2 linked regions of the Homo sapiens genome follow. The protein of the gene in region 1 interacts with the protein of each later gene in a pairwise test. Each region holds a gene or a part of one and is shown on either strand. Other genes may lie near its edges.

Evidence for each region. Proteins that work in one complex are often made in the same cells at the same time.
Region 2: the proteins of TNIP3 (region 1) and PLSCR3 interact in binary tests that used the Homo sapiens proteins (3 or more experiments, as listed by UniProt).

Annotation. Positions count from the first base shown.
Region 1 is NC_000004.12:121,140,322-121,143,821, reverse strand, and holds part of TNIP3 (TNFAIP3-interacting protein 3), read left to right. Parts: intron 1-1,045; coding exon 1,046-1,096; intron 1,097-1,907; coding exon 1,908-2,006; intron 2,007-3,500. UniProt on the Homo sapiens protein: Binds to zinc finger protein TNFAIP3 and inhibits NF-kappa-B activation induced by tumor necrosis factor, Toll-like receptor 4 (TLR4), interleukin-1 and 12-O-tetradecanoylphorbol-13-acetate.
Region 2 is NC_000017.11:7,391,726-7,395,729, forward strand, and holds the start of PLSCR3 (phospholipid scramblase 3), read right to left. Parts: upstream 2,801-4,004; 5' UTR 2,752-2,800; intron 2,547-2,751; exon of another isoform or gene 2,543-2,546; 5' UTR 2,386-2,542; coding exon 2,379-2,385; intron 2,112-2,378; coding exon 1,876-2,111; intron 1,785-1,875; coding exon 1,742-1,784; intron 1,640-1,741; coding exon 1,419-1,639; intron 1,254-1,418; coding exon of another isoform or gene 1,228-1,253; coding exon 1,066-1,227; intron 1-1,065. UniProt on the Homo sapiens protein: Catalyzes calcium-induced ATP-independent rapid bidirectional and non-specific movement of the phospholipids (lipid scrambling or lipid flip-flop) between the inner and outer membrane of the mitochondria.

The sequences.
Region 1 (3,500 bases):
CATTAAGACATGTTATAGTACTCTTGACCATGACTTCAGAGTTAATCAACAATACATATTAAATAAGTTGTCTTTAATCAGAAACACACATGAAACAAAGTTATGTATTGATCCATTGACACAAATGTTGTGACAAGAGGCTAGCAGAAACTTAACCCAACATTTCTCCTAGGAGCAGTGGTTCAATATTCACTAATTCAGTGTCCGTGGTGACTTTATGGAATATGACCACCACAAGCAGCAAGAATTGCCTGTAAATAGTACACATTGGTCTAAAAAATCACACAGTAAATATACAACACTACATAAGAGGACAGAATAATTCTGATAAGTGGGACTTGGAAAGGTATCATTCAGAAGGGGATATTTGACCATCCCTTATGGGAATGTGGGACATGGAGTGTAGGAATGACAATGATGTGAATGAACAGTCAAGGAAAAGCCAGCTTTCTCTAAATGTGTCTTAAGTTAAGGGAACCCAGGGTAGGTGATTCATCTAGATGAGGCTGGGCCTTAAGTAGTGAGAAGCTGTGGGATATAGCAGTGTGACTTTGAACAAGTTACTCAGAATCTTATGTCTTAGTGTTCTCATCTATAAAATTGAGATAGTATTAAGTATCACATAGAGGGATTGGGAGAATTCAGTGAGTTATTGCATGTAAAAAATTTAGATAAGTTTCTGACATGGATTAAGTGCATATATAACTTCTAACGTTTATTGTGGAAGCCTTTGAATGTCAGGTTGACAATTCCAATGTCATTCAGTAAGCAATGGAAATTGTTTCTATATCTGTATCTAAATAGATCTACCTAAAACAGAATTGTAATGGCCTCAAAAAACTGGAATAGCAATTTAAAACTATCACATTTTTCAAACTGCAACTGGAAATTTTAAGAATCAATGCATGTCTGCAAAAACCAACTTGTGGCTATTTTTGTTGGTATTACTGCTGTCAATGCCTGACACTTGAGTAGGTCAAGAGTGGCTTGGGAATTAATGATTTTAACTTGTCTTGATTAACAAATGCCTTTGTTTTGTCTTTAGATAAAAGCTTGTCAGATGGAGAAAGAAAAACTAGAAAAGCAATTAAAACAGGTATGTTGATCTAATTTTCACGCATACATTTATTCCCATGTACAGCATTTCTCATTGTCCCAATTAAAGACATGTTCAAGCTCTGCTACAGGTGACCTACAACAACCCATGCTTTTCATTACTGACTACACCATCAACGGATAGACAGTGCTTAGGCACCACCAAGGCCTTTCAACCCTAACACTCATAGAAAGCATATGCTTTATAGAGCATGTTACCAGTAGCACAAGTCTTAGTGCTCCTTAGACCCACAAGCACCTGGAAATAGATTTCATTGGTATTTCATGCAGTTGCTGACACAATTAACAGTAGAAAACTAAATCAAATACTGCCTCTTTTGAAAAAATAACATGCCTTCTTGAGCACTGAAGCATTCTATCCCATGGGTTCTCTAATAGCCTTAAATAATGAATATTATTTGTCCTAATTCCTAATTTCCTTTCTGGATTTTAGTTTTCCCTGGCTACAATTTAAGAAAACCTATTTTATGACTCAATGAATAGATTTTCTTCATTGAGGGCCCTCAATAAAGATAACTCAAAAACATAAAGTTAACTCTATATACTTTTCAAGTGTGTCTAATTTCTTCAAAATGGGGAAATGATTATAGTTTCACCTTAGGTAAAACTTGACCTGTGAGCCTCGTTTGTATTGGTCCTGAGTCTATTGACATGTTTACTATTTTGAGTTATAATTATGCCAGATTAAGTGGAACCTTAAGATTGAAACCAAACCTTTTGTATAAAGCAATGTCACTGCAACTCCTCAGTCTCTCCCACTGGTAGTGACCCCACAGTTTTGTTCTCCTCAGATGTATTGCCCACCCTGTAACTGCGGCTTGGTTTTCCACCTGCAAGATCCATGGGTACCAACAGGCCCTGGAGCTGTGCAGAAGCAACGGGAGCACCCAGTAAGTAAGAGTGCATTTGAAAAAGTGCTTAGTATACTGTTTTGGTAGAAATTATGTGCATCTCTGGAATTTCAGCACATTATATTATCTACAGCAAGAGCCTCTGTTTTCTCTCAGCCTCTAACTTGCAAAGTTGGAGTGGTCAATGTACACTAGAATTATCTTTGGGACACTGAATCCATAGGACACATAGATACGAATAAATTAACTGAAAGGTATTAAATTGGGAATAATTCCTTGAACAACATATAACATTTTCAATTGGCATACTTCATTCTACCCAAAGGACATTTTCTGTATAAAGTGTATTTATGTATAAAGGAAAGTGGATATGGCAAAACAAGAAAAATGAGATGCTTTTGTTCGGTTGTAAATTTATATTGAACTACTATGGATATTGCTACATATGTGCAAAATAGATTTTGACATTTTCCAATTGAAAGGATTTTCTTAAAGGATCCAAGAAAAAGTGACCCACTTAAGTTGTTCTCCATGGCTGTGTCTTCCCAGACAAAATGAAATGCAGAGTTGAGCAATTATTTGTGAGGGGAATTGATTTGGACAGTCAACCTGAATTAGTGAGGCCCAAAGCACCCTTTTTTTCCTTCTCAATAGCAGTATTCCACCTACCCTCCTCTACTTTTTATTTTGCCTACATAGATAGAAATTTATCCAGGAAAAAAATATGCATTTTCTGCATTTTGGATTTACCCAGACAAATCCCGCTACCCTTTAGGTTTGATTAATTGTGTTTCTCATGATGAAAAAATCTAAGATTTTTAACTGGGATTTTCCTACCAGAATGCTTACAGAGAACATGATTCTCTTGGCTTCCTGAAAGTTCTCATACTTTTGTTCGAGTGTGACTCAAAACCCTTTTCCCAAGGGAGGAGATAATGACTCTTTGGGTGGCTGAAGGAATGTGAGGATTTAATGAGCATCTCTTATTTGACCCTGGTATGACACAGCACACCGCTAAGAATTGAGTCTTTTCATGTTATTGCGGGTTGCTAGTTCTGTCTGCTCTCCCTCCCCCTTTTCCTTTTTTTTCTTTACCTGTTTGCTTACTTTTCAGTCTTTACCAATAACATTAAATTTTTTTTTCAAGAATGTAGAAGTCAACTCAGATTGTGAGAAACATAAAGAGAAATTTACTGTAGGAGTGAATTAACCTATAGGAGTTGGCTTCTACAGGTTGGGGGATTGGAGAAATATTCTTATGAAAGGTTAACTATAAAACCAATCAGTCATTCACATTTACCTAGGAGTACAAATTATTGTTTCAGTCAAATATTTCTTTATGGAAAGAAGGAAGGAATTCACCTACTATAGCTCATCAAACAGTCCATGTCAATTAAAAAAGGCAAGGCAGTCCAGGTCACATAAAATTGTCACCAAATAAAGGCCTATATTTGAAAAAGGACTCCAAGCCATGTAGAATGGCCTACATTTTCTTTCTTTTTTTCTTTTTTCTTTTTTTTTGAGAAGGCATCT
Region 2 (4,004 bases), on another chromosome or scaffold:
ATCTTATTCCCAATTGGTTCTCATCATGGAATCTCCCTCTGGCTACCAAGGTGACTCATTTTTGCAAAGTAACCTTAGGTAGGGTACCTCATTAGAAGCGTTGGAAAGTCTACTGGATTATACCTGTTGTTTCTCCCTTATCTGCACAAGCAATTATCCCTTAAAGAACTCAAGGGTCGGTCAGGTGCGGTGGCTCACGCCTGTAATCCCAGCACTTTGGGAGGCTGAGGTGGGCGGATCACCTGAGGTCAGGAGTTCGAGACCAGCCTGACCAACATGGAGAAACCTCGTCTCTACTAAAAATATAAAATTAGCCAGGCATGGCGGCGCATGCCTGTAATCCTAGCTACTCGGGAGGTTTAGGCAGGAGAATTGCTTGAACCCGGGAGGCAAAGACTGCAGTGAGCTGAGATCATGCCATAGCACTCCCACCTGGGCAACAAGAGCAAGACTCTGTCTCAAAACAAACAAACAAAAAACAAACAAAAAAAGAACTCAAGGGTCTGTGGAGTGCCTTTGTCTTCTAGAAACCAAGGTGCTTCCCAGGCCTCACCTCACTCTGAAATTCTTGCCACTTGGGATCTCTAGCTTCCAGACTGGTGACAGGAATGCACAGTGAGAAGGATATACTGGATTTCGGAATGGCAGGGGCATTTGGATTCTATTTTAGCAGGGCAGGCCACAGGATGTTAACATGTTAAAATCGTGCTTGCTCCAGGGCCTGGGCTCACACACTCATACACAGCAGCCACATGGGCCCGGCCCACACAGACTTAATCGTCCTTCACCCCAAATCCAGGCTGGCCTTAGATTTTTTTTCTGCCCATCTCAGGGCCACTTGTAATAATCAGCATTGCTCCTTAAGATGAAATCCTCGTTGTTATGCTTTTATAAGAGCACAGGGCCATCCTATTTCCAAATGGAGGAATGCTACAAATGCGGTCGGAGTCACAGTGGATTTGGATTGATGAGCTCAGGGTCTTGACCTTAATGTTAACTATCCTGCCTCATGGAAGCATCATCTTGGTTTACGAAGGTCCCAAGAGCCTCTAGTATTCCTGATACCTCAAAGTTGGTGTCTGTGCCACAGCCACAGGTCCAGCAGGGCCCCACCACTCGCAAGACTGTCTGGCGATCGGCATCCTGGATGGAGAACTTGGGGAGGAAGGGATGCCAGGTCTGTAGCACGTGGCCAATGGTGGTGCCTGGTGGAGCCTGTACTTCCATCTGGGAGTGGGAAGCAGACAGGGTCACTGCGGAGGCAGGGGTCCCAGCTCTATCATCTGTCTATTTGGCCCTCACTAAACCTCCCATCCCCACCTGCCCACTCCCACCTGATCCAGGCCTCATCTCAGGTGGACCTCATCATTGTCCCGCCCCACCAAGGCCCGCCCTCCCGGCCCCCTCCCTCCGCCCACCTCCTGGAGGCCACAGGGGCAGCAGCTGCAGCCACAGTGCAGCGGGCGGAGCAAACGCAGCACCTCACGGTCCCCGGGGTCGGCCAGGCGGACACGCAGCGGCCGGCGGGCGCCACAGCACAGACGGGCGCAGCAGTTGCTCTCCTCGGCCGCCTGACCCAGGGGCTGCCCGGCCCCAGAGCGCAGTTCATACCGATTACAGGTCTCCCAGCCTAGGAACGCTGCCCGAGGTGACACGGGGAGACTCGTAGAGCCTCGCGCGCCCAGGAGCCCACCATCCGGGCCACCATCATGAGGTCCAACCTCCCACTCCTTCTACTTACTTTCCACTCGCTCAGCCTTCTGGTGAATCAAAATCTGATCAATCTGGAAAGAGAGGGGCGGCGCGCACATCAGCTGGCCCATCTGGACGCCCAAGTCCCCTCCCAGTCATCCTCCCTCCCTCCTTCCCACTCACCTGCACCAGGAATTCGAGGCCAGAAGGCACCCCTGGCAGTGGCAAGAAGGGGGCAGCAGACCCCAAGGCCACGGGGCCAGGCGAGGGGAAGAGGGCGAAGCCGGGAGCTGGGGCAGGTACCTGGGCGGGCACTGGCGCCTGCCCGGGCCCAGGATGTAGCGCCGGCTCCGGGTACCCAGGGGTGACAGGGTAGGGAGGTGGGGGCGAAGGGGCGTAGCCTTTGGGGGGCAAGTAGCCTGTAAAGCGGTGGGAGCAGGATAGATTAGAAAGGGACTCAAGGCCTCATCCCCTTATTCCTCAGCCCATGGGCCGCGAGGCTTCGGGGGAAACGTGGTGGCAAGAGGCAGAGAAAGATGGGGCAGGGGAGCAGGGTGGAGGTTCCCCGGAAGGAAGGGAGGGGCCCCACCCAGCCAGTCCGAGCACATTCCGGGAGGATGTGTTCAAACCCGGCTCCCAAGTCCGTGGGGGGGATAACGGAGACCCCCAGACTTGCGCGCACTTACCTGCCATGGGAGAAGGGCTGGGGTTTTCGAGATGATGGTGTCTGGGTGGCTTAGTTCTGGAAGCGGAGGCAAACTCGGAGATAGCCAGACAGACACAGAGACAGACACAAAGACGGAGAGGCAGCTGCGCCCGGCGCCGGCCCAGGGTCTCTTGGGCGGCGCCTCTGACTCGGGGAGAAACCCAAGTGTCAGTGGGCGGGACCGGGTACCTGGGACCCTGGATTCCCTCGGGGGCCCCAGAACCGCCCCCTCCCTTTGTTCTCCCATCCTGCGGAGGAGGCTGTGGGCCGACGGCAGGACAGATGGACCCGCGGTCAGACCGACAGCCCCACCCCAAGGGCGGTCTCCCTGACCCCTCTGTGCCCCCGCTCACCTGGAGCCCCCAGAAGAGCCCGGGTGCCTAGCACTCGGCAGCTCACAGGAGCTGGCGGAGGCGGAGGCGGGCCCGAGCTCGGACCCCGGCCCCGCCCCCCGACCCGCCGAGCCCGCCCCCTCCTGGGCGGTGCGTTTGCGCCGGGAGGAAGGCAGCCGTCCGCTGCCCCGGGAAGCCGATCGTGGGCTTTGCTCCTCGGCGTCGCCGACGTTCCCGCCCCTTCCGCTCGGACTGCAGATGCCCAGAGAGTAGGAGCGCCTGGAGAAGGCGGCGGCTGGTCCCGGGCCCCGCGAACGCCGCCAGGCCGGCGGCGTGCGTGCTCAGCGCCCTGGGTGGGAGGCGAGGGCGGCCCGGGCCGCGCTGGCCCCTGGGCTCCTCCTCCCAAGGGCAGTCGGGCCTCGCTGACGCAGCGGAACACCCTTCACACTCACTCATTGGCTTCCAGGACTGGCTCCTGGCTCGCCTTCTGCCTCCCAGGGGCGACCTCGCCGTCTTCTCTCCCTGGCACAGCGGTGACCCACACGGGCACCTCGCAGCGACAGCAGTTTCTGCAGGTGCCCCAGCCACGCGGGTGACAGGCCGCCAAACGGTGTCAGTGAGCGTGCTCAGGCCGCCTAGAGGGCCAGAGGAGGAAGCGCGGTCAGAAAAGACCCCCGAGATGAGTGTCTTCGACTGGATCCTGAGCCAGGACCAGTCCTGCCTTGGGGGCCACTGGCTGAGTGGCGCAAGAGATGAGTTTAGAAACGGAGTGCAGTCCACATACAGGGCGGGTTGTGTGGAAGCTGCGATTTGGCCCCACGAGCAGCGAGGAGTCCACCGAGACATTTTTAGAACAAAGAAGGTCAAATGTGTGTTTTAGAAAGATCGTGGCGGGGCGCGGTGGCTCACGCCTGTAATTCCAGCACTTTGGGAGGCCGAGGTGGGCGGATCACCTGAGGTCAGGAGTTTGAGACCAGCCTGGCCAACATGGCAAAAACCCATCTCTACTAAAAATACAAAAATTAGCCGGGTGTGGTGGCGGGCGCCTGTAGTCCCAGCTATGCAGGAGGCTGAGGTAGGAGAAACTCTTGAACCCGGGAGGCAGAGGTTGCAGTGAGCCGAGATTACGCCATTGCACTCCAGCCTGGGCAACAGAGCGAGACTCCATCTCAAAATAAATAAATAAATAAATAAATATTTATTTAGACATCACCAATAAGGCGAAGGCATCACCAATAAGGCGATAGTTAGGCCGGGCACGGTGGCTCACGCCT